Regions from separate parts of the Homo sapiens genome. Here region 2 is linked to region 1. The links come from fine-mapping of genetic effects on gene expression. A gene starts in region 1. The other region holds a variant in brackets. All regions are shown on one strand. Distances are from middle to middle.

Region 1 (16,334 bases):
TGATGGCAAGATCTGCTGGCCTTGTAATTGGATCCAGTGGCAAGATGTCTCCAGGTCAAAGTCTCTAGGGTTGGCTTGCAGCACTCTGGGCATTGCTGAGCTTGCTCTTTGTAGACCTTATTCATGCAAGGAGTTTGGGTCCTCTTAAAGTCTTCTTAGCTTCAAATCCCATTACTATTATCGCCAAAAGATTATTATAGGTCTTATGCTAATTAATAAGCCTAAAACAGGTTGATTTATACTGAAAATTTTCTTAGGTTAATTAACCCCACCATAAGATGTTAGTTAAATTTAAATTGCCTATACACATATGTCTACTACTTATACTAAAATGTCTACAGTTAATTGCACCAGGAAATATCATAAACAAACCAGCTGGTGGTGGTGGTAGAGTGTTTGAGAGGGTTCCTCAGTGAGCTCCTAGATGACTTGTAAATTCAATGGTTTCTTAAAGTTAGTCACCTTTATGGCTCAGACATAGCCCTAGGTAGAAATAGATGGCAGGATTGGTTTCGATGGCAAAGTCCCTTAAAACATTTCAGTCTATGATTTTCTAATGTCAGTGTTCTTCTTTATCCATCAGACTTTAGTCCTATATTATAGCTAAATAATAATAGATCATTCTATTTTAGGCAGAGATACTAAGGCAAGATTTGATGGATGTCAGTTCCTGAACACTGGCAATAACCTACTTGAAGTTTTATCCTTTGAAGCTAATAGCCCACTGGCCTCTATCATTACCACCTACATTGAATGGCTCATGCTTGCAATCCCATCACTTTGGGAGGCTGAGTGGGTGGATTACGAGGTCAGGAGTTCAAGACCAGCCTGGCCAAGATGGTGAAATCCTGTCTTTACTAAAAATACAAAAATTATCCAGGCGTGGTGGCAGGTGCCTATAATCTCAGCTACTCGGGAGGCTGAGGCAGACAATTGCTTGAACCTGGGAGGCGCAGTTTTCAGTGAGCCAAGATTGCAACATTGCACTCCAGTCTGGGAGACAGAGCAAGACTTGGTCTCAAAAAAAAAAAACAAAAAACAAAAAAAAACTTCCTTATTGTGAACCAAATACATCATTTCCTTTTGTTCCTTTTGCTGGCCTACCTTGATTGAATTTCTCTCCCACTTTTTTACCAACACAAAATGTGTCCTCGTCTCATTTCTCATAAGTGTAGAGAGGCAGTGACGTTATCTTCAGCTCCTAGTTCCCCATAGGCTCTTTATGACAATAGCAACAGTCCAAATAATTGGACTATAGATTTAATTTTAGGCATAGGAAATGTTATCTTTGAAAGTAACATTATACATCACATTTTGAGCTTGTTATACATTTATTTGTTCTTTAATTTTTTTCAACAATGATTTATTGCATGCTTACAAGGAATCAGGCAATGCACCAATTCAAGGATATACAATGTTAAATAAAAATAAGCAGGACACCTGAACTCATGGAATATATAGCACTGTTGGTTAACAGATGTTAATAAAATAATCACACACAACAATTAAAAAACTGAGACAAGATATCTTTTAAAAAAAAAGCACATTTAACAAGGGAACATAACAGAGACTGGTGGTGGGGTTACTATGTCAGGGAAGGCTTAAGGAAGTGCTTCCTAATTTCTTCTAAGAGGAATGAATAGATGCAAATCAGGTAAAGGAGGTAGGAGGCTTCCATCAGAGGAAACATGTGCTATGATGCCCCATGGCAGGAAAAGAAATGCCATTAGGGAGCCTGGCATATTTCAAGTACTGAAAGAAGGCTGGTGTTCTTGGAGCAAGGAAAATAATGATTCCACACCAGATAGGAGCCAAGGCATACAAGACATCAACCATGTAAGGAATCTAGTCTTGAACTTAGGAGAAATGGAAAGTATTTGAAGAATTTTAAGTTATGCAGTGACACGATCAGCTCTGTATTGCGACAAGATCACACAGCCTACTGCATTGAGGCCAGGCTAGAGAGGGTCAAAATGGAGAAGGTGAGAACAGGTGAGCTACTATAAACGACCTTTAAGAACTTTTTGGCACAGTCTTTCATTCATTTGTTAATTTACTCATGTTTATTCACTTGTCTATTGTACTTTCTATTAATGTTTATTGAGCACTTACTATCTGGAAAGCACTGTGAGGAATATAAGGAGAGAGAAATAGTTTCTGTTCCCTCAAGGGCTTATTAAAGACAAGTACATTTTTCTTTTCACAATTTGAATGCTAAATTGTCTCAATGGTTTGATGTTGATTGACTAGCTAAAAGCAGTTTAAACCCATAAATTTTTGCTCCAGTGAATTGTGCAATGACAACGAAATAGTTCATATTAAAACCTGTAACTAACTGGCCTTTTCTACCTTGTCAAAAATCTCTGAAAAAGGCCTCAAAGTTCTCATTGTATTTTTAGGTCAGAGCCGATTTCTTTTGTTTTTCTTTATGTAGTGAAAACATGGAGATATCTTCCTACATGCATTTCTACTCAGAAGCAGTTTTTTTTTTTTAATCGTCTCTCTTTCACTTTAACATCTAACAGTTGCTGTCACATCAGTCCTCTTTTCCTTATCCCTTCTTTTTAAATCATTTTCTATCCCATTTCTAATACCTGTCAGATGATTTGATAATCAGAGTTCCTGTTGGAACTCAATGAATATCATCCACCTACCCAATGTCTGTGCCACTATAAGGAAGAATGAAACGGAAATTTAGAAGAAATGTTTTTCAAGAACAATCTCAGACTTTTTCTCAACCCCTCTGGGTGTTTAGGTGGAGGAGAAATAAAGATAAAAACAGTTAAGAAATGGGAAAAAAACATAAATACAACCAAAGACCCATGAAATAATTTGGTTTAGGCTTAGGCAAGCAAGTATTTATGGGCTGTGATTTTTGGATCTTTTAAAAAATCTTCTTTGCCAGAAAAGATTTTATATACCACTTCATCAATCAATATTTGGTATTAAAACAAGACAAAAAAACTTTGCTTTTCTCCTCATATTTCAGCTGTAAGGAGAGATCAAGTTATTCTGTAGTAGATACTACTCCAAATTTTAGAGGCTTAAAGCAGCAAATATGTATTTCTCGTCCATGCTATAAGTTCAGTGCCAGTCAGTTAAGAGTTCCGAACTTTGTCATCCTCATTCAAGGACCCACTGAGCAACCAGCACTATTTGGAGCATCACTGGTCATACCCAGGTAACAGAGAAGGAGTAAACATGGTGAATCAGACACTTATTCGTCCAGTTTCCATCTGGAAATGGCCTAAGTCTGTTTAGCTTCCCTATCATTGGTCAGAGCAATTTTCATTAGCAACTCTAATTTCAAGGAAAGTGAGAAAATTTGATCTGTTCTTACATCTATGCTGGAAACTGGCAATATTTGCTGGAGAGCAATAATGCTGGAGAGCACCATCATTAGCCTCTATAAAAATGTCTCCCTCCCCACCAAAATATTTTGGAATAGTTTGTTATCTTAATTGTTTGTTATCCTATTTTAAGGATAATTTGTTAACTCTTAATTCATAATGCAGAAAATTTTCATGTTTCTCTTTTCCAACTGAATACATGCTGGATACCCAGAAATCACAGAAAAAGGAAGAGCAACTTTTAACCATATTTCACTCTAGGGCATGGGTAGGAGGGGCAGCTGGACGCCTTCACGTTGACAAATGAATTTAGCTCTCTAGGTGTTACAGATTTGGGCTTCATTTAAACATGTGACTTTTTAAAAAAAATTCAGGCAGATCAAGCCAATTTAAAAAATAAAGCCCCTCTTGACTTTTCAATTCAATTAATATAATGGATCAATACCATGCATTTGAGTGGATTTAATAGTATTGCTTATACAGAGGCCTTTACCCAGAAACACAGGCAGGGATGCCCATCCATGTGCAGCATAAGCACTCACATTCCCATCTGCTTAAATAGACACTGTCTTCTTATCTGTATGCACTCTTATAAACACACATTTTCCCATATGCCAAAAGACAAGTGCATACACAAATGCAGATGTATGCTATGTAGGAATGCTAATGAGAAAGAGGGAGGAAAAGGGGACATTAGAGAACTAACGAAAGATGGAAACAGGCCGAGCTGGAATAAAAAGGAGGGCATAGGATACTAAAAGGAGGACAGGAGAAAAAAAAAGACCAGAAAAAAAATGAGGGAATGAGGGAAACAATGTATTCATGAGAAAAAATAATCTAATGCAAAGTAAGAGAATGTAGGTATATGTGCTGGGCTCTGACAGGTCATTCTGTGAATGTGGGAGCTTGAATGTGGGTGGGAAAGAGTGGATGGGAACATATTCACACTCATGGGAAAAGGTAAGAGCCAAAAGAATCAACAAACTCAAGTGCTGTGCATGCAACTAAATCTCATCAACTGAATGTGGAGGCAGTGATCTAACAGCTTTCAAATACTTCAGTAACACCAGCAAACACTGTGTAGTGTTGTCTATGATCCATGTGTTGTTCTGTGCACATATATCAACTCATAAAATACTTGTGATGACCAAAAATAGTAGGTTCTACAAATACTTTTATTCTTCAGGTAAGAAAACTAAGACAAGGTAAGGCTAAGGAATTTGTCAAAGGTTGTATAGTGAATAAGCAGCAGGATTCGGATTTAGAACCAGAGTCTGAGCTCTTAACCTCAACTCTCTGTAACATCTCATTCCTCTGAAGGAAGGATTATGATTCCCATATACATATTGTTTTAGTTCATTTTGCATTGCTATAAATAAATACATGAACCTGGATAATTTATAAGAAAATAAGTTTATTTGGCCTATGGTTCTTCTGGCACTGTACAGGACCAGCATCTACCTCTGGTGAGGGCTTCAGGCTGCTTCCACTCATGGCAGAAGGCATTGGAAAGAAGGCATCACATGGAAAGATGAAGAAAGAAAGAGAGAGAGAAGGCAGTGCCAAGCTCTTGTAACAATCAGATCTCAAGGGAGCTAATAGAAGAAGAACTCATTCATTACTGGGGGAGGGCACAAAGACCTTCATGAAGGACCTGCCCCCATAACCCAAATACCTCCCACTAAACCCCACTTCCAATACGGAGGATCAAATTTTAACATGAGATTTAAAGGGGACAAATATCCAAACTATATCACATATGAAGGTACAGATGCTCATGTCCTCAAGAATTTCCTGAAAGATGATATATGCTTGATTCTGCCTATGCATGTAGAAGGTAAAGATAGCTTAGATGAGTCTCCTTCTGCCTTTAAATAGCTCACTGTTCAATAGGGTGAGTGCTATGATCTGAATGTTGTGTTCTCCCAAAATTCGCGTGTTGAAATCCCAATCCCTGTGGCATTAGGAGGTGAGGCCTTTTGGGAGATACTTAGGTCCTGAGAGCAGAGTCCTAATTAATGAGATTGGTGTTCTTATAGAAGAGACTCCAGAGAGCTACCTCCCCCTTTCTACTATGTGAAGACATGGCAAGGGGCACCATCTATGACACTGAATCTTGCAGTGCCTGGATCTTGGAGTTCTTGACTTTCAGAACTGTACAAAGTAAAATTATGTTGTTTAAAAGCTACGCATTTTATGGTATTTTGTTATAGCAGCCCCAAATGACTAAGACAGTGTGATAGAAAAGTTAATAAATAAGTTCAGTTGAATATTCTAGGTTTAATGTTAAATGCCTGTGCTAAGTTCAACAGGAGTAAAAAGTAAGGCATGATAATTTTATCTGGAAGAAGAAGTAGTTTACATGGCTGAAACTTGGAGTGTTCATCAGGTAGATAGGGTGAACGTGGCATTCCAGTAGGGGAAGACAGTGAGAAACAAAAGCATAGAGACATGAAACCACTGGCTCTTGAGAGAAATGCAAAAAGTTATGTTTGCAGGAAGCATAGAGGAAAGAATGATGCTTGAAAAATGAATGCTGGCTATGGATGTGTGTGCATGTGTGTGTATGTGCATGCATGTGTGTGCATGTGTGTAACAAGGAGTGTGCAGAGAAAGCAGAGTTGAGACTGGAGGTATAAGCTATAATTTGAAGTCAGATGTGATATGCAAAAGAGTTTGCACCTTATACTGTTCTCAAGAAAACATTTTAGATGGCTGAGTGACACTATCAAAATTAGTTTTAGAAACATTTTTGTTGTTTCAATGGAAGATAGATTGGAGAAAACGAAGATCAGAGGCAGAGAAACTAATTAGTAGGCCACTATTTATTAGTATTGCAGTATTCCAAGTGAGGATAGAGATAAGGCTATGGAATTGGTAATGAATAGAATGGTTCAGATGATGGATAGATAGGAGGTACTTTCTCAGCGATAGTAATTGTGTGTGTGTGTGTGTGTGTGTGTGTGTGTGTGTGTGTGTATGTGTATGGTACTGGTGGGTGGTTGAGAAAGAGTCTAGAATGAATATCTCCCAGTGTTCAGGATTTCCATAGGGGAAAGGTGAAAAGGTAGAGGAAAAAAGGTATCTAAGCACTGATAGTCAGTGATGGACAGAGATAGAGCTCTAAGAGGTAACAGAATATGTCATAGCTAAGACTGCCCAAGGTCAGGCTCTGGAACCAAGGCTCCCAATTTGTATTCCAAAGTGCTTAACTTTACGAAGATCAGCAATTATTTATTGAGCATCTATGAGCAAGCCACTCTCTCAAATACAAAAAGTCTCTACCAAAGAGAAATGATCTATATTTAAAATCATTTGATATCCATAATTAATTTGCCATAGCATTATTCACTTTTTCTTAGAAATAATTGGTTTCTATTTTCTCTTTCATGTCGCACTGATTGACCATAAAATGCCCATAGCCTGATTATATTTTTCGTTTATTTCTTCACTATATATACCCTCTGTTCCTCTTAAGATGCAAGTGTTTTGATGCTATAAATAATGATATTGGAATAATCCTTCAGTTGGACCAATCTTATCCCACCTGAGGTGTTTATAAATGGGTTCAAATTAGGTCCTGGACTCGCTATGTTTTCTGATTTTGTTGTTATTGTTGTTGCCTTTGTCTGAATAATTGCGCATGATAAGGTGTTATTACAAATAGTATAGTAGTTACGGAAACTCTGGAGCCATGTTGCCAGGGCTCTACTCCTTTTGCCAGCACTGTGAGACCTTGAGTCGGCTTAATATTTCTGTGTCTAAACCTTCTTATCAGTGAAATGGAAATAATAATAACTTCTTACTTTTGAAGATTAAATGAGTTAATACAAAACACTGAGAATGGAATCTAAGCTGTTATACCAATGAAGACATTACAGGTTTCCTTTTATTCTTGTCATTACTATGAATATCATTTAAAGGACATGTCTCACAGGTAAAGCTGCTGATCATGTAGCCGCTTATACTTCATTAACAAGCATAGTTTTCAGTGAGGAAATTTTTGGTTTGAATTACCAGAGTTTTATCTTTGTTTTAGAAAGGAATTGATTAACCTAAAAATAAATTATACCTATAATTTCAAGAAAGGAAGGTAAAATAATTTTCTTACAAATAATTCTTATGTGTGTCTTGTTGTAAATTGTTTTAAAAATCTCAGAAACCACCAGGATATCCTGAATGCTTGATATATTCAATTTGCAAGTTGGATGAGAATTTGTAAAATTACTTGGTAAACAGAAAGTTACTAATTCTATTTGAAGAAGGTAATGTGCATAGTTTATCCAAGCTAATACACATGATATATTTAGCTCTAATGAAATGTGACCTAGATCCGTGAATGTAAGAGAGTAGTTTCGGAATTATTTGTTTGTGAAACTAGTTACTTCCACTTTACAGCTGTTTCTTCTCTCAGAACCTTGGGGCCTAACCCTCCATCTAAATGCAACATATGGGAAAAATAGAGCTTGACCAAGTCCTGGTTTTGAATTGATAATTGTCAGCTAAGAATTTGCACCGGTTTTGTCTCATTTTGTCTTTCAGTAATGTGGTGAATATGTGAGAACTGACATATACTCCAGGTCCACTTTGAAATTAGTTAACTAGTTCAATGGGAAAAAGTAGAAGATAATATTAAATTGTTTGAAAACAGAATAATCTGTGCTTCCGTTCCTAATTTTTCATAAATTTGTATTCTCATTCAAATGAATGAATCACATAGGAATGTATGTAGTTAAAGTATACACAAATTTATTATATGAAATATGTGCTGAGAGTTTAAAAAGTTAAATATAGTGAGATGCTATTCTTGTTGAAGTAATTATGATATTGCTCTTTAAAGCATGTAAAGATCATCATGATCCAATTCATGTAGTAGTAAGATTAAATGTATTTTGTAGAATTGTGGTATTTAAATGCTATTCTTATTAAAATATTCTTGTCTATTTTTATTAGTTCTGATATATATTTATCTACAGATATATTAGCATATTTGTATATATGTATGTATGCATATAAGTGTACAATAAATATAGGTGTATTATATATATACATATGTAATATATATACTTCTATACACATATCACTCTATAGAAAGCTTAAAGATTAATGAAGTCCCCTAGGGCATATAAAGTAGTAGCTCTCTATAGCAGTAATGCTAGGCTGAGCTCTAAAAATGGAAGCTGTACAAAATATCTGTTCAAGAACATGAACAGTTTTTATAACAAATCTTAAAATTGTACAATATTGTGAGATGTCAGCTAATAAGAAATCAGACAAAACCAAGATCTCCCAATTCTTCAGCTTTCTTTTATTCATGGTCTTTATGTGGAAATTTCCTTAAGGATTTCAGCGTTGGGGTTGGGGAATATGTAAGAAGTGACCACCTCCACCCACCAACCTAATTTGTTGATCAGTAATTCAAAGAGGTTTGAAACAGAAGGTTTTGTGCTGCCCAAGCCTGGATGGGAATGGATTTACTGGCAACCAATTAGTTGTCAATTCTTCCTCAGGATTGGTTGCCTTAGGACATGCTCTGAAAGGAGTGGGTAGGAAGAGCTTAGTCACGACCCACACAGGCTGGCTCAGATCTCAGGCAGTTAACCTGCACTCTATCACAAAGAGCAGAGAAGAAAATCTGGCTGAGTTTGTCAGCTGTTTGAGGAAGCTGGATAATCCTCCAAATTTCCAGAGAAATTTGTCTGGGCTAGTAATACAACAAAATAGCAGTATAGATATGGCTAAACACCAGAAATCTGCTGCCCACAATCAGCTTTTCTAGTTCCATTTCCTTTAATGTGCTTTGAAGTTTAAGTTACAGCTATCCAACATTTAAAATTGTAAAACATTTTGTGAGAACTAAAAATCAAGGTTTTATAATGAAAACTTTTAAATTTAGTTTTTACTGTGGGTCATTCTCCAGTAAATGCATCTCTAAATCGGTGGGATGTAGTAACATACACTTACAGAAAAAAAACCAAAATGGTGAAAAACATTCAAAGCAGCTTGAACTTTGTGAAGTGTCATATAAGAGGGTCATATGTCATTGAAATTACATATTTAATAAGGGTGCTAATGGGAAAAGCTAATTCCTCAGAACAAACAATTCCAATTGATATAAATGTTGAACGAAAAAAATTAAAACATTTATAATTTGATATTAGAATCCAGGAGAAGACCTTATAAGTATTAGAATAATATATGAATATATTTACAAAAATTGTGACATTCATTAAAGAAAAATTTTGTTGGAGCATAGCAATTAAGGCTGGGAAGAAACCATACACTGCTTAACTTCCATTATCAAAATATCAACAATTTATTAGTAATATAAATGGAGAGGTGATAGAGATTTTAATGAAGATTGACTCACAGAAATGGAAAATAGGAAAATACAGTAGCAAGTGAACTGTTCATGCCAAGTATAAGATACTTAGGTTCTCTGGTTGCAAGGTTTTAAATGGCATGCTTTTTATCTTTGTGAATTTCAATTAGACTCTGCAATGGGCAAGTCAGGAAAAGAATATTAATGATGGAGGAGAGAGCTGGGTGGTGTTCCATTCTTCACAGAGCAAGCTAAATAAGAGAGCAAATGTTTGTTTAGGTTGTAACATATTAAATGCTCATCCAGAAAATGGTGATTAATAGATTAAAAAGGACAGCTGGAAATATTTACAATGTAAAGGTTTTACTCTCCTCCCATAATCTTCAAAGCAAAGCTAAAATTTACTGTAGATTAGCAGTGCCTGTTAGAAAAACTGCACCATCTAGGAAAAACATCTGAATTTTTGGTGCATAACTAACAAAATTGAAGTGTTTGGCACATATTGACTCTGAATGTAAAATGACAGAAACGTATCAGCATACTTATCTCTCTCTCTTTTTTCCTTTAAAGTGTCTAACGTTTATAACAACTTCTGGAGGAGATAAACACTGGCTCTGCTTTGCCTTAGTAAAATGTGCATAACATTCTGTCTTCTGTGCAGTACAAAAAGGAAAATGTCCCCCCCTTTTTTTGTTGTTCAAGTTGCACGTTTGGATTCTATCGCCTCAGATAAAACAGAACAGAAATGAGACAGATCAAACACACAATGCTGAAAGTGTAAGATGGGACTGGAATTCCAAGTCCCTTTGCCAGCAAAAAGCCCTAAAGGGGGAAAACCTCAAACGTTGTTACCTTTCCTCCCACTGGGGAATGAGTTGCAGAGGTAGTAGAAACACAGCAGGTCCGTTTTTGCTCCTGGGTAATGTAAACTTTTTGGAGCTGTTGATTGAGTTTGATCACCTGCTAGGGAGGGCGCCTGTGAAAAGAGGTTGGAAAAGGATTGCTGGAAGTGAGCGGGAGGTTTCCCAAGGTGTGTGTGTAATCTGCAAATGGACTTTACTGACTGGCTCAAGGGAATTCTCCAGCTCTCAGAGCTTTCAGGGGAAATCGGTCTTTATTGCGGGAGTGTGAAGGAATGAATGGTATATCAGGAGGGTTAAGGAATCAAATAAACTTCCTGCTGTCTGATTTCACGCAACATGCTTTGAACTTGGTCCTGCGTGGATGCGTTGATGACTAAGTAAAGGCGTGATTAGTCCCCTTGCCCTCCAGCAGGAGCGGAACCTCTTTACCTCTTAGCAGCCACGTCGCTCCACAGTAGGGTGATGTTGGGGGACGGGCGGCAGGGCGCGGCCCCAGGGATCTAGGGCATCACCGCCACACTACATTCCCGGCTTTACACCAACACCCAACAGCAGCTCTGTCAGGAACCTTGGGGCCTCTCGGGAGCCCCAGCAAGCGGCCTCGGGGAGCAGCCCGAGGCTGCGCGTGGGCTCCGCTCCTCCGGCGAGGTGTGGGCGAGGGGAGCGGCGCTCCGAGCGCACCCAGGCGCCCGACGCCGCCCGGGTCTGCGCCGCTGCTAGTGCCAGGCGGGCGACGGTCAGTTACCAGGGATCGAGGGATCGAGGCAGGGGAGTGTGTGTGTGTGGGGGGGGGGGAGGGGGGGGAGGGGGGGCCCTGCCTTCCCGGGAACCTCCTTAGCCCTCCTACCCGGCCTGACTCCTCCTCCTCCAGGCGCGGGGCTCGTGCCCGCCACCGCCGGCGCGCACCGCGCCTCCGCCCGCGTCCCCCCAATTTCCCCCCCCGGCCCCAGCTCCTGTCATCGTTTTCCCCCTCCTCCTCTTCCTCCTCCTCCTCTTCCTCCTCCTCCGCCCATCACCGCCACTACGAACGCCTTCGCCTCCTTCTACACCTCGCGCCGCCGCCGCGGCTCCTAGCGCTCCTCTCCGGCTTCCACCAGCCCATCGCTCCACGCTCTCTTGGCTGCTGCAGTCTCGGTCTCTCTCTCTCTCTCTCTCTCTCTCTCTCTCTCTCTCTCTCTCTCTCTCTCTCTCTCTCCCAAGTTTCCTATCTCGTCAAGATCAGGGCAAAAGGAAGAAAACACCGAATTCTGCTTGCCGTTTCAGGTAGGGTCGCACACGTTGGTCCCGATAGAGACACTTTCCTGTTTGTCTTTGCCTCGCGTGCATGCCTCATCTCCCCCCACCCCACTTTCAGAGGCTCCCTGGAAACGGAGGAGGCTCAATTCCCGCACCTCCCTCCTCCCCAGCGCACTTAAAAAATAATTTCGATACTTATCACCAGAAGCATATTTGCAACTACAATAAAATCCAGGACACCTGCTCGGCAGCACGTTAGCCTGGCTCTTTTATAGTCTTCAACTTTGCTCACTGTGATTACCGCTGCCTGCCTGGCTGGTGTTTGCTGCCGGAGCCTCACGCGCCTTCTCTTATTGTGATCCTCGGCTCCAGAGCAGCTGTCAAACGCGTCGTTTCGCAGCACTTGATCGGAACCCGGCTGCCTCTAAGACTTGGTCTTGGGCAACCGTGGGTGGGCAGGAAGGGAAATTATTTATTTTATTTTGTTAAGGGGAGTGAAGAAAAGAAGACGTGAGGACCGCAGTTCACTGTAATGTAGAGTAATTGCAAAAGTGGGCTGCCTGCCCCTAGCTTTTCCCGCTGTGGTTGCGGAGGTGGTCTTGGTTGAGGGGGTTGTGGCGTGAAGTACCCATCTCTCCTCTCCTCTCCTTTCCTCCCCTCCCCTCCAACCCATTCCCTTTCCAGCTGCTATGCCAGTTTAAAGTCCAGGGTGTTATTATTACGTGTGCGCAAAACAGTGTTTGCTGACGATGAGGCTGGGGGACGTTCCTGGCAGAGAGAAGTCTGATTACTTGGTCATCTTGCTGTTAAAGAAAGAAAGAAAGAAAAAAAGAAAGAAAGAAACAGAAAGGAAAAGGGTGGGGGTGGGGGTCCATAAAAAAGAAATCGTCTCTCAATCATCAAGTCCTACACAGAGTCCAGGAAGTAATCTCCATAGCTTTAACACGAATCCCTAACTAAAAGGATATTCTTTGGGGTTACTTGGATAGTGAAACTGAAGGCAATTTTAAGTGTATTTTGTTTTTCATTCCATGGCTTTGTAAAGAGCGGCGGTGATGAAGACAAAATTGAACATCTACAACATGCAGTTCCTGCTTTTTGTTTTCTTGGTGTGGGACCCTGCCAGGTGAGATATTTATTGTATTTGACTATTTTAATTCAGGGCAAAGATGTGTTTCTTGTAGGCCATTAATGCTTTTGAAAATCAAGGGTGTTTTAAAGAATTATTTCTCAGAAAAGGGGGTGTATGGGGAAAGTGAACTATGAAGTAATAGACTGTAAAAACTTCACTGCTTCTCGTTCTTAGTGATAAGATCCAAAAGCAAACAGAAACACTTTCCATGCAGAACATTCACAGAAGAAAAGAAAATCCTTTCAATGGCATATTCCTACAAGGAATTGAAGTGATTAATTATAGGCACTTATAATATAACACCAGGATTCGATAAGGAAGCCAAGTTTTCCTTCGAGCTGACAGAAAAGTACCAGCTAAGTGATTTGAGTGTTAACTAATTTTTTTTTTCCTTTTTCTTTTCTTTTTTTAATGGTATGGCTCCTTTAGTCACCATAGAAAACCCAAAAGATGTGTGAGTCTTAAACCTCTAGGTGGAGGTAGTATACAACTTCACAATCACAAACAATGAAACAAAAGCTAGATTTATTAATCATCGACTTTTTGCATTATTAAGATTTTTTTCTCAAATGCTTACAGTCAGGAGTACTGATTTAAAATATGTAATGAATTTTCTTTTGCCTATGCTATAAAAACATGAAATTAATTTTTATTGCTTTCAGTAACTTCATTTTATTTTGTAGACTTTCCTGATTTTCATCATCAGTGGACATCTTTTCTTTAATGCCTTTAGGATATGATTCTCAAAATACCAGAAGACTTAAGATACAAGTTTTATAAGAATGTTCTTGTAACTATTTATTTTTAAAAATCTAATAAGTCTTTATTATACCTTTATTTCTCTTTTAACTTTTTATTTAATTGTCCAAGTAATGGTCAAAGTATGAAAACATTTCTTAGAATTGAGACGCCATCTATCTCATAAAGCCTTGCTTTCATTTGGAAAATATCTACTAATTTAATGACTACATATTGATTTGAGAAAGAAAATATAAAATGTGATTAAGAAACACTTTCAAATGAAAATATGTGGAACTTTATGAACATCTTAGTTATTGGTTTTAAAATTAGCTTAAGTAGGCAATACAGAAACTTTTGAGGCTAGAGGGTATAAAGTGATACACTTATTTAATTTGTAGATGTTTATCTTCATTTGAATACTTTAATATTTTCTCTGCTCTTAAGACAATATTTGTTTGAAGTTGGTTACCAGTTTTTGATGTATTGTGACTATTTATAGCTACTAGGTGTGTAATCATTTAAATGCAAATGGACACTTTTAATAATATTTTATACAATGCACCTTGATCAGAATGTAATTACATATTGTCTTTTATTTTAAAAGAGTGGACAATCCATTATCAATTAATAATCATTGAAAATCTCAGTGTTTAACCATACTTCTCTCAACTAGTTTTCTGTTCTATATTTGACCAGTAATGCTTATGCCAGTATTGTATTCTATTATATAAATGATTCTTTTTTGGGGCCAGCAATTTAAATCTCTGATTCATTCTGAGAAAAAAAAAGACAATGAAAAGGGACATTCTGTTTTATACATTTAGTTGCTTCTGCAACAAATTGCTGCATGTCACAGAATCAGGTGTTTGGCTTTATGATGGAGAAATAATGGAGAAAATCACAATTTCTAAAGCTTTTCTGGTGATATTTTAAGACCATTTGTTCTTTCTACAAAATTGTCACCAAAACAAAGTAACTAGGCATTTTAATCTTTACAATATTGCTCTTCTCAGAGACCAATCAGGAAGAACTAGGCTCTAAGGATCTCTGCAGCTGTGTATGTGTTGCTGATGCTTTCAGAGCCCACCTCCACCTCCTGGCTACATGGAGCCTGGCACATAGCCAGTGGAGTTTCCCTGATGCTTATATTGCACTTGGCCATTGGGTGGAGGTATACCCAAAGTAAGGAAAAAATCCTGATTTAAAAGAGAAAAATACATATGAAAAAGAAAGACACTTATGAGAGAGATAGAAAATATATTTACCTCCAAAAAAGCAATTTATTTTCCAATTAATATTGAAAACGGTTATTTCAGGAGTCTGTTTGATTATTGGAATTTTCTAACTGTAGAATAGCAATACTAATAGTGTTTGCATGTGTTAATCTACAATCATAATATATCCCAGGAGATGGATTTAGAAAGAAAATGAATAGTCCACATAAAATGTTAAAGGGGCAAGAATCTCAAATAATGTTAACATCAAACTTCTGATAATCTACTATTTAGAATCTATTTCAATTTCATGTTTACCTTTTTTGAAGACAAACCGATATTTATAGAAGTTAAAAAAAAAGGAGGAAAACGGGTGGTACTAATAGCTCAGGGAGTGTTAAAATTTAAATTAAGGAAGAAAAGCATGTTGGCATTTGCAAAACACACATATGTATATATATCAGCTTTTAAAATTATCTGTTTAGGTTGGTGCTGGCTAACATCCAAGAAGATGAGGCTAAAAATAACATTACCATCTTTACGAGAATTCTTGACAGACTTCTGGATGGTTACGATAATCGGCTTAGACCAGGACTGGGAGGTAAAAATAGTTTTCCTCTTTTAAAACTCTCGTAAAATAATGCCTTTAAAAGTTAAGGGTAATATTCCTATTTTAATACTTTTATATATGAATGCATCACTGTGTATATAAAATTATAGAAAATAGAAAGTAAGATATATGAAAAAATATTGTCTGTGATTCCTTTTATACATACATAATGTATTTAACATATCTTTCATAGAATGCCTAAAGTCATATGGAGCCCAGACTTTCTGCATGAATAGTTTTTAAATTAACTTTCTCACACTTAGAGTATGTTAAAATCTAGCATTATTGAGCAGATATACATATGAAAGTATATTTCATGTGTAAAGAAAGTATATTTACTTTCTTTGATCATATTTTCATGTCAGCTCAGATACACAGAAATGAGGAACATAAAAAATTTAAGAATATAGTGGTTGTATTTTAACGAATACACTTTTTAGCATTCTATGATGATACTTCTTTACACTTGCATGTGATATTTCTAGAATACAGCACAACTTTGTTATTCTTGAAACTTTCAAAGACATTTCAGATATACGTTAGACATAGGTCTAAAGTTTTGGATTGTGGCACAGTTTGATTTCAAATTTAAACATTTTTTATTCAGAAAAATAAAATAAATATTCAGAAAATTAAAATTTTTAATTCAGAAAAATAAATATATTTTTATTCGAAAAGGGAAAGAAAATTTGGCTTGGCTAATATGTTAAATTTTAATGATCACATTTATCACTTGTTTGTTTCATAATCATTAAGACATTTAGTTTCACAGTTAATTCAAAATTAAGACAAATTAGTTGAACAGTTGATACTAATACAAGATTTATGTAGTTAACCTGGTTATTGCCGGGTTTGGTGACTTTGCA
Region 2 (16,346 bases), 54 kb before region 1:
CAGATTGTGACTTCTGTAGCAATATGGGTCTTGGCCAGTCTCTTCACATGTCATCCCTGCTGATCAAAGTGCAGAGTAGCCCCCATAATTTATCCTCCACTTGCTGTAATCAGCATGCCATTATTTGTCTGCCATTGATTTCAGGTGGTTCAGCCCTCCTGGCAATCTCAGTGCTTCCCATGGGACAGGACTGGCGTGGGCTTATTGTAAAGGTTTCCAAACCAGTGGGAACATTAAACATCCACCTCCAATTCCCTACTTTTACTTCAGAAACTGTGGGTCTAGGAAAATCCTCTGTGATAGCGGTTATGTTGGCTTGGAGGAGGAGGTGGCATAGTCTGAAATGACCTTTTTCTTACTGATCACAGCTTTTCTCTGTTCTGTTGGCCCTGGGAATGTCTTAGCTTCTCCCCTGAGTTCTGGTGAGCTCAGGGTGGTATTTTTGTGTTGGAATAGTTTCTAGTTGTATTTTTGTAAGTGGAGTTACGCTGTGGGATCTTCTGTTCTGCCATTTTGCTGACATCACTCAAATTTCTGATTCTTAACTGCTAATGCAAGAAAGTCAGATATTCCTGAAGGTCAAAACTAAGATCAAGTTTTTAAAAATTACAAAATAAATATTTTAAAAAGCAGAATACTATTTTAAAAGTTTCTTTAAAATTAACATTTTGTCTATGGGATTTCTGAACTTTCTTTACTTTTAGGATAAAGACAGATGACTCAATAGTTTAAACGAAAAGTGTTTCCTTCAACCCTCTTTTAATATGGACTAAAATCTGGTTCTCTTCTTCAAGTTGTAGTCTTGGGAATGTTATATCTGATCTCTCCTTTTTTAATACCATGTTTCACATGACATTTTAAAAATTACTGTATAAGTTAGCTATTGTGAGAAACAGTTTTATTCAGTTTGAAGCATTCAATAAAATAAAAAATGTATAGAAGAAAGAAAACTCCATATATGCAGAGTAGCTATAGAATTTTGTTTCCTTTCTAAAGGTTTTTATCTGCCATAGATCCTTACATTTCAACTTCTCACAGTTCTCATCTAATGTTTTACGTTTGGATTTCACATACACCAACTTAGTTTCAGTATCACTCTTCTTAGTGTTAAAGGACACTCCTATAAAACACAGATGATTAAGGGAGGGGAGTACACTATTTGCCAAGGGGCAAAAAATACCTCATAGAGGAATAGATAGCAATTGTTGCTTTCTTCTTCTAGAAAATGTGTAGATACTTCGTATAGTGTGAACAATCTTCTCCTACAAAATATTTAGATAATACAGTGTGAAAAATCTTGGTTTGTTTGTGTGGAGATGATAGATAAATTTTGCCACCCAAAGATGCTTTAAATCTCAACATTGTGGTCATAGAGGGATATTTAAAGCCTTTTCATGATGACTTTTACAGATCAAGTCTTTCATCTATATTATTTGCAAATTTCTTTCATATAGCATATCCACAGTAAAATTTGACATAATTTTTATTAGCCTAACAGTATGATTTATCTTCACTATTACAGTATTAACTGTGTCTGTTAAAATTCATTTTCTATTCCTCCTGAAAATACAATAAATGAGTATGCTTTACTTGCCTGTCACCATTGTAGTCAGATAAAGCTACATGACTACACTTGTCAAATGAGATGTGGACTGAAGTGGTGTATACAACTTTGAGACTTGGACCATAAACACCTTCACCTTCACCATTTGCCAGCTGAATGTTGAATCAGGCTGCAGAAGATTTATTGATCAATGTATGGCTCCCAAAGCCTCTCATCCATGAATAAAGATATAGAGCAGAGAAGTCCTCATTCCACTCACCGCCTATGAAGTTCAGTTGTCTGTAAAAAATATACAGCTATTTTCATAAATCACTGAGATTTTAGAGATTTTGCTTTATCATATTTTATTACATTAAATAATTCAAAACTCTATAACAATATACCTAACAGTATTGATACCTTGCTCTTTTCCATGGCCATAGTTAACTCTCTTTTAATTGCTGTTGAGGGCACTTGCCAACATGGACTCAAAAGACAGCATGGGTAAGAATTTATGCATAGAGCAATATAACAGATGAGAAAGAATATCCACCTATCTGTTCAACAAATATTTATTGAACATTTCCTTCATGATAAACACTATATCTACTGGACAAATAAAGATGAATTGCACATGTGCTGGCATGTATTTTAGCCATGATCATGTGGTTCTTGAGCCAGAAGCCTTAGTGTTAGTTTGCTGACTCAGTTAGGCAGTTCTACGATATAGTAGCAGCAGCTCTCTTAGCTGCTTATTTCTGTAACATTTTTGGGAATCATCTATTAGAATATATTTTGTTAGACCTCCTGATGATTCTTCACATCATTTCATAATACTATGTGCTAAATTATTTTCCACTTGAACAAGATTCAGTAGCTTCCATTCTCTGAAACGCAGGCCTGGGCCCCAAGTATTCATCTTTCCAAGAATATATTTACAGATGTCTCAGTCTTTGGGCTTCAGTTTGATAACATTTTGTTTAATGTTAAATGTTATTTTAGCGTTTCTCTTGGTAAATAGTGTGAATGCACACCAAAATTCCAAAACAGGAACTGAAACTTGTTCAATGATAAGGTGAAAATTCAGATAATTCAGAATAGGTTCATATTGTTTATTAATAAAAAGAAATAAAATAAAAAATAAGTATAATGATGTAAGAACCTACTGACACCCATGGTGCTACTGATCCAATATTGAAAACTGCTGGTGAGATACATATAGGTATATAGGGCTTGGCAAAATAAAAGAAAAATCAATCAATTGTTAAGTAATTTTAATAATAATATTGTTATTCTTAAATATCAAATGAGATAATAACATAGAAGTACTTTGTAAAGAGATAAAGTGCCATACTCGTTACTGGTAGTATCTTCTACATAAATGCCTTACATTTTTTAGTGCCATTTAAAGACGATGATCCAATGTCATATTATTGTAACTGAAGGACAATGCACTGTATGTTTTATCTACTAAAGGTGTAGATGGAAATTAGATAAAGGACCCTTCACTCTACAGATGAGATTTGAATTAAGTAGCATTATTGTAAACAAAAGAGGAGTTCAATAATTGAATGTCCACAGTGACTGTGTAGGTCAAGATAGAGGCCTGCCTGTGGAACACTTTAAATTACTGCTTCTCGTGTTCTACTTTACTTTGGGAAACTTGAGCTGCCATTATAACACCTTTCACCAGACTGAACGTGTAATTGAAAGTAAATCAATCTTGAGGTGATTGAAATTATTATTGCCTGACTTCTTTTACTCTGTCATTCCACAGGAAGCCAGTTGGCAGTGGATAGAGAATTAACTGACATTTCTCCTTTCATTTTATTACATCACAAACTTCCACAAAAATTAATTATAGCACATTTTTTCTGTGACTTATTAGAAATTGTAATATATATTTTCTATATTTATTTTATCTATATTTTCCCCACCTTATATGCCCTCTCAATTCAATTACTAAAATCTCCTTTGCCTTCCAGAACTTTTCAAAAACATTTGTAAAAATGTTTGACATACTATTGATATATATGTATATATAAAATGTTGTTAGCGTATATGTATTTTTATACAAATAGCATAGATTTATATAGTTTTCAATAAGTACATGACCCAACTTGCATGGATTAAATTATTAACTAGTTAACTATATTTTACTTTATTAGAATTTACTAATTCCACTTTTGTTGTTGTTGTCGTTGTTGAAACGGAGTTTTGCTCTTGCTGCCCAGGCTGGAGGGCAATGGTGCGGTCTCGGCTCACCACAACCTCCACCTCCCGCGTTCAAGTGATTCTCCTGCTTCAGCCTCCCGAGTAGCTGGGATTACAGACGCCTGCCACCACGCCCAGCTAATTTTGTATTTTTACTAGAGATGGGGTTTCTCTATGTTGGTCAGGCTGGTTGCGAACTCTCAACCTCATGTGATCGGCCTGCCTCAGCCTCCCAACGTGTTGGGATTACAGGCATGAGCCACCGTGCCCGGCCTACTAATTCCACTTTTATCCTTCATAGCATGTGCATATTCATTCATAGAGCTTAATTTTTGCCCCCCACGGACTTCTTTAAGCTCTTTTTGCTTTTCGAAAACAATAAAGAGAAAAAAGCTAGTGAGTAGCTTTTACTAACAGTAGCTGTTTTTGTCCCTCCTTTATGTTCATTCCTTTACATCCAAGCCATTGATATGTTCTTGTCATTTGCCTCATTGTCTCTTGGACTGCATCTTTTCTCATAATTCCCTCTGCCCCAGGTATCATCCTCATGACTTCACGACTGCACCAGGGCATTAGCTGCCCTGCCAATTTCTGGACACAATTCCCCCTTCTCCTCACTACCTCCACATACTTCCTCCACCTACATTCTGCTTCTAAACAATGATTTTTACCATGCTACTTTCTTGTTCAAGCATCCGTGCTCATTCCCACCATCTTTTGTAAATTTTACCAATATAAAAATTGTTCATCTTATGAAAAAGAGTTCAGTGACTTAAGTGAACGAATGTGAAGAAGTTTCTCTGCCACAGAATAGCATAGTAACAATCATACGCTAATACTGTAAATTGCCATGAGAGCGTATATTAGCTAGCAGTCCCCCAGTACAATGTATTATTATTTTGAAAGGGAATGGAGTTAGTATCTAACTCCAGACTAACAGAACTCCATTCTGTTAGTTAATATCTAACAGAATACCAGTGTTTTACAAAATGCCATGAAAGTAATGCTAATCTAAGGAAATCATTTTGAAAAAGCCTTTTGTTAAAGTCTGGCTCTCAAACAGCTCACTCATTTTCAAAAATCTCTTCAACAGTTGTGATGAGCCACAGTCTAGTTGGTGTTACAATGTGGTCTGCATAAGGCTGGTTCATTTCCACTTCTGTGACTTTTTTTGCAGGCTGTGTTTCCAGCAAACAACACCTCTTTATTCCTCTTGACATGTCCAGAACCACTGTGATTTATGTAAAGATTTCCCTCCCACAAAAAGTCATTTTAAATTGTCTTGATTATAAGCCATTATGCATTAATTTTAAAGCCATAGTAGGTAGACAAAATTTTCACTGTCCTAAGAATTATATCTTTTTTTTTTTTTTTTTTTTGAAACAGAGTTTCAGTCTTGTTGCCCAGGTTGGATTGCAATGGCGTGATCTCAGCCCACGGCGACCTCCACCTCCTGGTTCAAGCGATTCTCCTGTATCAGCCTCCTGAGTAGATGGGATTACAGGCATGCACCACCACACCTGGCTAATTTTGTATTTTTAGTAGAGACAGGGTTTCTTCATGTTCGTCAGGCTGGTCTTGAACTCCCGATCTCAGATGATCCGCCTGCCTTGGCCTCCCAAAGTGCTGGGATTACAGGAGTGAGCCACTGCACCCAGCCTATATCTTCTTATATATAAATCAATCATCTGTTTTTGATTGCAATGTATTCTTCTTTTTGGGGTGTGACATTCCTAATTTAATTAATTCTTAGTATTTGTTTATATTTATGTCTCTAGAATGAGTTATGTGATATAACTTTTTATGTGTTTTTTTTCTTATATTTTGTTTGTATCTACCTACATAAAATATCCATCAGGCTCCTATATTGAATAAGCATGTTGTCAATATCCCTGGATAAACTTCAGTGGACAGTGGCAACGTGGTCAGTCAACAGCTGACGGTAACATTGTGGCAACAGGGACTCCGTACTTTCATATCAATGAACAGTATTTCTGGCGACTTATGCATGATTCCAGAAGACAGCTTCCAATAGAGATAGAGAGGAGTACCAAGTGGTTTTCATGGGAGAATTTATTTGTACATTTTTATAAACAGCTTCTTGGAGATATATCATAGACATATAAAAATTATATATACTTAGGACAACTTAATGTTTTGATAGACACACACATTGTGAGATGATCACCACAATCCAGGTAATATATCAGCTCTACATAGTCATCGTGTGTGTGTGTGTGTGTGTGTGTGTGGTCAGATGATTTAAGATCCATTCTTTTAACGAATATCAAGTATACAATACATTATTCTTAATTATCATCACTATTTATCTGTAATGTTTTATGAGCAAAAAGACAATATATGTATTTACAGCGTGTATAATATAAATTATGTAATATTTAAGTAGTAAGGAATTATTTAAAAATGAAATATATTAAAATGTTAACCTTTGTTAATTCTGAATAACAGAAATATGAAGGACTATCACATCCTTTTGCAAATGTCTATACATTCACCTTTCTTTTTTTTTTTTTTTTTTTTTTTTTTGAGACAGAGTCTCGCTCTGTCGCCCAGGCTGGAGTGCAGTGGCGCGATCTCGGCTTACTGCAAGCTCCTCCTCCCAGGTTCACGCCATTCTCCTGCCTCAGCCTCCCAAGTAACTGGGACTACAGGCGCCCGCCACCACACCAGCTAATATTTTTTATTTTTTTGGTAGAGACAGGGTTTCACCATGTTAGCCAGGATGGTCTCCATCTCCTGACCTCGTGATCCACCTGCCTCGGCATCCCAAAGTGTTGGGATTACAGGCATGAACCATCGCGCCCAGCCTACATTCATATTTCTTAATAAAGATGGAGAGAGCCATGGCCATTCTACATAATTAAAAAGATTTTCTGTGAGTTCAATAACAATTTAAACCTTGATTTTTTAAATTTGAATCATATGGATTATCTTATTTCAATTTTTGAATTAGCTTTCTGATTATAACTGCTCTGACTTACTGACCTAAGTATACTGCCTTGCATGAAAGTTGTAGTTTTAATTTAAAAAAATACTTCAGCATTTTGTTATATACCTTGGTCCCTGTGAACTCATGAGTTATGTGTTTTTTTCTGTGAACTTGTTGGCGATATGAGTCTACTCCAGACAGAGAGATCCATAGTTAATGAACTTAAAATAGTTTCAGTTTTCTGAGGCTGCAAGGTTGAGAGTGAGATCCTAAACCAATGGTCAAAGGACAACCTGCAGCAGAATCACCTGGGTAAAGGCTATGCATTTAGGTCTGTAAATGGGGGTCATTGTGCATGAATATGTGGCATCTGTCCCCCACATTCTCACACACATGTGGAGGAACATTGTCCTTAAACCATTGAGTATATGCTACCTTCTAAGATTTCTTGTTCTGTGAGCATCAGGCTTTTCCTGGTAGTACTCCAATCTTAGTAAACTTTTTTCCTTCCAACAATAAAACCCCAGGACAAATTAATACAAAATTCCCTATATAGTATATCATCAAATATTAAGAACATAAAACTCTTCTATGAAGATCATCATTCTACAATTAAAAATCACAATTTTATTGGAAATACTTCATTTCTTATTATTACACTTTTGGAATAATGATTTATTTATGCTTAAGCAAATCTGAACTTCATGATTCAATCCAAATCATTTCTATGGAAAATGTATCCCTTATTAAGTGAATAACTTCACAAAAATTATACAGAGGCCTAGTTAATTTTCTATGATATTAAACAGACAATGAAAGTAATGTAAGGATTAAAACCTATATGCCTTTGTCTTAATGTCTTGGACTTTATCCAAATATTCTTTCAAATTTGACTCTTCCTTGAAAATGCATATGCATAGAATAAAATAGCAAATTTCTTTAAATATTTTTATGGGGATATTATTCAAGGCATATTCTGTAAAGAGTGAGTGGACTCTCTGTACTCTGAAAGATGATATTTAAGATTCCATTATTTCATTTTTGACTAACATGTGATAAAACCAATTAGCATTGTTCTATTTTCTAAGTGTCTTCTTGCCTACATGCTGAGTTAGAAGGGCAAGAAAGAAAAAAGCTATGATGGAAAGTGTACTCAGAAATATTCTGCTACTGTGCCTACATATATAGTCCTTTCTTAGCTGAAGAGTATACCTTACATAATTTTAAGTGGAGTAGAAATTTAGCAAGTCTGTTGCTATTAAAATAATAAATGAGATAGTTTAAATCAATAGGAGAATGTCGATCATGGATTTTTGGCTTTAAAGATCTCTTTGTAGAGATATAAAGTAGCATGATTATTATATTTATTTAAAATGCATTCATTTTGGTTAAAAACCATCTTAATTCAATGCTCGCACTCACTCTGAGTGCTGTATCATGATTTTCCCATTATAGATAATTGAATAACACTGACTTATGACTTAAGCCCTTAAAGAAAAGTATTGTCAGTCTTAAAGTTAAGTTAGAATTTTCAAATATATTATATAACTTAATAAAATATTACCCTTTGTGGTGAAATCTATATATTTCTCTGTGGTTTAAGGTCAATATTTAGAAGACTCTTTTACTCAATAATATTGATGTTTATCATTGTTTGAAGGAGACTAAAGTAAGAGTTGCAAGTCTGTCTTCTATATTTGTAGTTTGTGAAGAAACATGGAAGGTAAGTACCAATGAGACTGAAATATCTGTGCAAATTGAAGGAGATCATAATTTAAATGCCATGTATCACTCATCTTCAGTAAGAACACAGATAGATGAATGGATAGACAGAGACACTACATATACTCTACAAATACATGTATTCATGATCATTACTTACATATGGATATGCTTTTCTTGGTACCTGCAAACAAGATGAATGCATTTTCATTTTTGTTGTTTCCTTTTTGTTCGTCTTCTATCCCATTTTCTCAGGAGCAGAAGAATAATTTAAACTGAATTCTCAGGCTCCAACACATCATCCTGATTGGTCGATAAAAGGCTCCTCTCCTATTTTATTCCACCCCTGTCTCTGATCTTTAGCCACTTTCCTCTTTCCCTTTCCAAAGATACCATCCACAATGCATTTGATATGTTTTCCAGAATACATCAAGTGACTAAAATTTATTTTCATTGTTAAAGTCCAATTTTATTAAGAAGTTAGAGGTGTGAATAACTATGTCTAAACAAATGATTTGTTGATCATTTTGATGAAACTAACCAGTAGCTATCATCCAATTCAACATTTACCAAGGCCTTACTCAAAGAAATGCAGAAGCCACAATGTACTACTTTAGGCACTTTTCAGAAATTTTCTCATTTCATTTTCACTATAATTATAATTCA[C/T]TTTGATTATTCACATGTTAGAGATGAGAAAACTGAAGCTCAAGATTATTAAATAACCCTTTATAATTAAATAAAGCAAAAGACAATAGTGCTGAATAAATTCATGATAAATTCTTTTCAAATGAATAAAATAATGTTTGCATGGAAAAATAAATAAATTTGACACATCAGTCCTTAAGAAGCTTATATTTAACATCTGGGGAAATATCTACCACCTGAGAAAAGAAGAACAATTGTGAAAGAACAATTGTGAACAATTGGGAAATTCAAGTCTGACTAATAGCAAAGGTCAAGAGTACTATTTAGATGATTAGGGATGTATTGAATTCCCTAGGGTGAGATCATCTTGAACTGGAGTTTTCAGGTTGCAAACATACAGGCATTTATAAATTTGTGAATGAAGGCTTCGAGGCTAGGTTGGAAGCACACAGACAATATTAGAGAAAAGTAATGCTGTTTGCTTGTTTGCTTTCTGCCATGTTCAATATGCACAAAGCGAATACTGCTGTTTGAAGCTCACTTGTTCCTAAGTCAATAAAACGGATGGCAGGAGAGTAAGCAAAACCTTTATGACTCACAGTGCTAATTTCATAATCAATAGCAATAGCAACAGCTTCAGTGACTGGCATTGACTATTAAGATGCGCAAAATGAACCATGGAGGCCGCTTTCTATACAGATATGTTATTTTCTCTCCCTCACATAACCATGGTCTAACCAAGTGACTTCACTCAACTATTTGTCTGGCTGAACTTAACCTTTACTAACCATCCAATTATTAAAGTTGTATAAAAGGATTTGTAAGAAAAATCTGTGCGCCAGGCTCTTGTACAGATAAAAATTAATCCATTTAAAGACCTCCGAACAGGTTTCCTGCATAATTTCTGTACATTACTATGTTTGTATAAAACTTTTTATAAAAAAAGAACGGTAATATTGGTTTTGCTGCATGTAGAGTTGAGTGAATTTATTTGTATAAATTGATAATTTATATAATATTGGAATATGAAATGAATAAACTGTATGCATATAAATATATAATTATTTATATATTAACCTTCACATACATGTTTCAAACCTTGTGGACATAACTTTATGTCATTCCTCTCACCTATATTTTAATTATTATCAATGGTTCCATAACTTTTGTAAACTGAAATAAGCCTTTTCTAAAGATGTTAAATAACATACCAGTTTAGAAATGGGATCTGGCATCAGAAAAAATGGGGCCCGAATTCCAACTATGTTATGTACTAGCTTTGTTGGAATATGTTATACTGTTTAATTTTTAACATATAAAAAAACAAAAAAAGTAACAGTAAGAAGTTCATATTTTGGGGAGGAGGTTAAAAGAGATAATACATGTAAAAAAACGCATTATCACTTACCACAGTATTTTATATAAAAAAACTCAAAGACGACACCTACTAAAACTGTCTTTATATTATTCCATATATGTAGACTCTAGCTCATTCACAACCAATAACCAAATGACAATTTACAAGAAATGTTTGAAATTGAAAAAAACTATTTGGAAAATGCAGATCTCACAATTTGCATCGGAAATACAATGATATTGAAGTACAGACAAAAAAAAAATCAATTGCCCATTTCAATTTACTGTCTGAGACATGGCCTAACTTAGTTAAAATGCATTCAGACAGACAGACGAAATATGCACATTCATAGAAAAGTTATCATCTTGGTTTTGTATTATTCATTCTCCCTCATTTGTTCTCTAGCACTTGATGTGCCTTTAATGCATTTTTAGCTGTGCATTTCATTAATTGAAATTTCAATTAATCTAAAGTTATCCAAAAAGATAGGAAGCTGCCAAATTTGTTTTTTTTTCTTTGAAAACTACATTGTGCAGTAATATTCATAGCTACACCCACTCTCCAGCAATTTTGAGTTGTGTGGAATGAGTCATACAGACATATGCATGTATATTTTTATCTGGCTAGAAAATGTCATGCCCATCGAATTTTCAGTCTTCCAAATACATGCATTTCTGGGCCCGAGTTATCTTTCTCACATGCATGGAATGCAAGATAGGAAATGCTATACTGTAATGTATGTAAGTCAGTTTTTAAACCACCCAGTCGAACTTATTTGAAAAACACTGTTTTAATAAAACCTACCATTATGCTTATAATTTGTTAAATATTATTTTTATAAAATGTAAAATTAAAAAATAATGGCTCATTACTTAGAACGCAAAATACAAAACTGCCTATTAATTGAGAATTTTTGGTATCTGTGTTTAATTTTATAAACCATGTAAAATAATAACAAATGTATTCAAAAATAGATATCTTATGTTTGGATTTTCTAAGACAGTTAAGTGAAGAAATAATCAGATATATAGTTATGGTTGTTGTTGTTTGTTTGTTTGTTTGTTTTTTGAGATGGAATCCTGCTCTGTTGCCCAGGGTGGAGTGCAGTGGCACCAGCTCACTTCAACCTTCGCCTCCCGGGTTCAAGTGATTCTCCTGCCTCAGCCTCCAGAGCAACTGAAACCACTGGTGTGCACCACCATGCCTGACTAATTTTTGTGTTTTTAGTAGAGACAGGGTTTCACCTTGTTGACCAGGCTGGTCTCAAACTCTTGACCTCAGGAGATCCGCTTGCCTCAGGCTCCCAAAAGTGCTGAGATGACAGGCGTGAGCCACTGTGCCCAGCCAATATTTTCGAGTAATACATTTTTAAAGTTAAAAATTCCATATTGGTTAATGAAATCACTGTCAATTTTACAGTATCATATTGTAGAGTACACAACAGATTGGTTTGACTATTATATTTAGTCAAAACAACTACTTACAGGTCAGCGTTGATTACTTTCATTTTTTGAAAATAACTATATATGATTAGCTTTCATTAAAGTTCATGTGACATTTCCCCAATCTTGATACTTCTTAAAATCTGAGAAAAGCATATACTTTAGTTGAAGAATGGCTCATAGTTCACATTAACCCTTGAGTTATTTGAAGCAAACAAACATCACTGAACTTGCTATAAGTTCTAATTGTTATAAACATGCTGATGTAAATCCCCCTTAACAAACAAATATAGCTTATTTTTTCAGACAGAATAACATCAAAACATAGTGAAAATAGTGTCTGTGCACCCACAAGCACATACTCTGTCCCCACCATCCCTTACCTTTACCCCTATGCTCTAGGCTAAAAGTCAAACTTTGTTGTGTGAGACTCAAGTTCTTTTGCAGTCTGGCCACAACCACCTTCCCTGTCTGGTTCCTTCTACTCTGTAGGCATGACTCACCAAAACTCGTTCAAACACTCAACACTTCCCAGCTTTTGCACATGCATAGTCCTTTGAAGCAAAGCAAAATTGTTAATTTGGCTGAAGATATGGTTGTATGGCTGGAAATGTGGAAAGATAAGGCTGGAAAGATAAATTGCATCCAAAGTATAAAAGTTTTGACCCTTCGGCCACAAAATTTGTGTTGCTTTTATTAATCAATGCAAATATATTGATGATATTTTAATAAGGAGGTGACTTAGAGCTGTGCTGTAAGAATATCAGCTAGGCAGCAGTATACGAGAAAGCTTAGATAGAATAAAAACCTGATAAAATACTGAATGAGGAGAATGAATTTCAATAGAAAGAAGGTGAAAGAGTACATGACAGTGGTAAGAGTATAAATTCATACTTCAGCTCCCCTGCATACCAGATGCATGGATTTGGACAAATTATTCACTTGCTCTAAGCCTTTCCTCATGTATAGAATGAAGATCATAAAGGTACTACCTATATATTTGTATGGGAATGAAGGTTTAATGAAAATAAAAACCTACAAAGTATTTATTTAACACAGCACCTTGCTCATAGTAAGTGTCAAGGAATATTGTCTATTTCATTATTATTATTATATCAAATGGATTTGACATCATATTGGCTCTGATTGTCAAGACAGATAAAGTAATTTTAAAATATTCTAAGATATCTAATCAGTATACTGAAGCGATATATGCACTCCTATGTTAGTTGCAGCACCATTCACAATAACCAAGTTTAGAAGCAGCCTAAGTATCCATCAACAGATGAATGGATAAAGAAAATATGTTACATATACACAGTGGCATACTATTCAGCCATAAAAAAGAATGACATCCTGTAATTTGCAACAACATGGATGGAAATGGAGGTCATTATGTTAAGTGAAATAAGCCAAGCACGGAAAGACAAACTTCACTTGGTCTCACTTGTTTGTGGGAGCTAAAAATTAATACAACTGAACTCATGGAGTTAGAAGGCTGGGAAGGGTACATTGGAGAGATGGCTAATGGGTACAAAAAATAATGAAATAGAATGAACAAGGTTTAGTATTTGATAGCATAACAGGGTGACTACACTCAACAATAATTTATTATACATTTAAAAATAACAAAAAGAGTCCAGCTGGGTTGTTTGTAACACAACGAAAGGATAAATGCTTGAGGTGACAGACACTCCATTTACCCTGATGTGATTATTACATATGATATACCTTATCAGAATATGTCATGTATCCCATAAATATATATGCCTACTGTGTACACACAAAAAATGAAGATTAAAACAATTTCTAAGATTTCTAGCTTTAGTTCCTGGAATAAGAATGATCTCAACAGAATCATTTATGAGACTACAGGGGGAAAAGGAGCTGGAGGAGGGAAGATAATAAATAAGCGATTTTTTTCCTTTACAGCTTTTATTTGAGGGGTTGGTGGAATGTCCTGGTAGAACACATCTGGTAGGCAGTTAGAACTGTGCTCAGTAGTGAGCCTCCTGCTCACCATGATGTAAATAGACTATGACAAAATCTGATCAAGTAATTGTGTTTTGATTATTATTCAGTAGATAGTTTTCATTAAAATGACCATTATGGTCATATGGGAATTTATGTTTATCTTTAACAAAATCTAATCAAAGAGATAAACTATTTTACAACCAAGTCTTGTAGTTTCACAGATTCTGAGTCATTTCCTATATTTATATAATCATATTGTATGTTTATTTGAAAGAGGAATTCAGACATAATTTTGTTTATTTTCATCTGTAGAAAAATGTTTCAATTACCTCAGAACACTAAAGATGACTCAGGGAATCTCCCCATAATCAATCCAAGGAATTTTCCCAATGTTGATGACTCCAAAATTGAACTGTGTTGTTTGGTTCTAGCTGGGTTCTCAACGAAACTAACATTATTCCTATTTTGGTGATTTGCCAGCACAGTCACTGTAACATTTATTCTCAAAGTTCCCTACTTTTCTCAGACTCTCTATTCCATTATTTTGCCTGTCCATTTCAAATTGCCACATTTCCTATTTCATATGAAAATTAAGTGTGATTTCTCAATCTGGCCTATTTTATGTAGGAAGATCGGTGTGATCTCTCTCATCTAACCCAATATTTACCTTGCTTTAAGATAACTTTATGATTTTTTTCTGCTCATTTATAAGGTGCATGTTTTGAAAATATGCCCTTCCCAAACTGAACTCCTTCAAGATCGGGCTTTCCAGTTATGTCTTCATTTTATCATCTTCAATCTCATTGCCCCTGCCCTTAAACACATCTGGTATATGGTTTCTGAAACATTGTACAGTGAAAATGTATCATATAAATTAAAAACAATAAAATTATTTCCTCCAAAATTAAAATTGAAAGGATAACTTGATAGAGAAACAAAACAAACAAAAGTTATTCACATTAGCCTTCATCCCTACCCCTAGAAAAAAGTGTTTCTTCTTCCTCTTAACATCTCTTAACATCTTTAGTTTTTTTAAGTTTTTGTTTTTTGCTTCATAAGATGCTTGTCCTATGATGCTTTGTGTTAATTTAATTTTACATTCTTTGTCTTGCTACATAACAAGCACCCTGAAATCTGATTTCATTTTTCATACATTCTTGTATAGGCATTGTTTGTAATATAAGGGTTGGATGAAAGGTGCTTGAAGCTTGTATGTGTTAAGATTTCTAGTTTTCCCCTTCCTGTGTCCATGTGATCTCATTGTTCAATTCCCACCTATGAGTGAGAATATGCGGTGTTTGGTTTTTTGTTCTTGCGATAGTTTACTGAGAATGATGATTTCCAATTTCATCCATGTCCCTACAAAGGACATGAACTCATCATTTTTTATGGCTGCATAGTATTCCAGGGACTGTTGTGGGGTGGGGGGAGGGGGGAGGGATAGCAGTGGGAGATATACCTAATGCTAGATGACGACTTAGTGGGTGCAGCACACCAGCATGGCACATGTATACGTATGTAACTAACCTGCACAATGTGCACATGTACCCTAAAACTTAAAGTATAATAATAAAAAAAAAAATAAAATAAATAAAAAAATAAAAAATAAAACTGTTTTAGGACAAAACAAAACAAAACAAAACAAAAGATTTCTAGTTTTAAAAGAAAACGTAACAATGAAGGCTATACACGCCACAATAGCTGAGATTTTTGTGGTAACAAAGAACACAGCAATTCCCATCATCATATCTTTAGGCATGCTAGAGAAAGAAAGATAAATAACTCTTTATTCTTCTTTGAGTCCTGTCATCTGATCATGTATGCCTTCTGATTTAATCATTCCATAAATACATTAAGACAGGGCTGGGAATTTGCCTTTCCTCCCTATCACCATAATAGATTGAATTTTTACCATTAAAAATAATTAATTTTTGGCTGGGTGTGGTGGCTCATGCCTGTAATCCCAGCGCTTGGGGAGGCTGACGTGGGTGGATCACCTGAGGTCAAAAGTTCGAGACCAGCCTGGCCAACATGGTGAAACCCCATCTCTACTAAAAATACAAAAATTAACTGGGTGTGATGGCATGTGCCTGTAGTCCTAGCTCCTCGGGAGGCTGAGGCAGGAGAATTGTTTGAACCAGGGAGGCAGAGGTTGAATTGAGCCAAGATCACACCACTGCACTGCAGCCTGGGCAACAGAGTGAGACTCTGTCCCAAAAAAAAAAAAAAAAAAAAGAATAAATAAATAAATAAATAAATAAATAAATAAATAAAATAATAATAATAATTTCTTTTGGAGGGGAAGAGGAAATGGAGGAATTTCCGTTCAGTGGGTATGGAGTTTCAGTCATGAACGATGGAAAAGCTCTAGAGATCAGCTATACAAAACTGCGTTTACAGTTATTATTATGCTATACGTTTACAATTTTGTTAAGATGGTAGATAACTTATATGTTTTTAATACAATACAAATAATTTTTAAAAACATGTAGGTCTTTC

Alleles and levels. Alleles are on the strand shown, and positions count from the first base shown. SD is a standard deviation of normalised expression in the study named.
With allele C in place of T in region 2, the expression in esophagus muscle of the gene that starts at base 11,405 in region 1 is lower (moderate effect, 0.56 SD a copy in GTEx).

What was found.
Region 2: its variant is fine-mapped to the expression of GABRA2 in esophagus muscle (GTEx, PIP 0.98). The same link has a PIP of 0.9 or more in subcutaneous fat.

The regions. Positions count from the first base shown.
Region 1 is chr4:46,385,199-46,401,532 of GRCh38, reverse strand. GABRA2 (gamma-aminobutyric acid type A receptor subunit alpha2) reads left to right here and starts at 11,405. Exons shown (of 10, transcript NM_000807.4): 1 at 11,405-11,798; 2 at 12,817-12,897; 3 at 15,344-15,459. The coding sequence starts at 12,827.
Region 2 is chr4:46,439,198-46,455,543 of GRCh38, reverse strand. No RefSeq gene overlaps it. Among named protein-coding and RNA genes, the nearest start is that of GABRA2, 57 kb to the right of the region's middle. The variant C/T (reference allele first, on the strand shown) is at 9,096.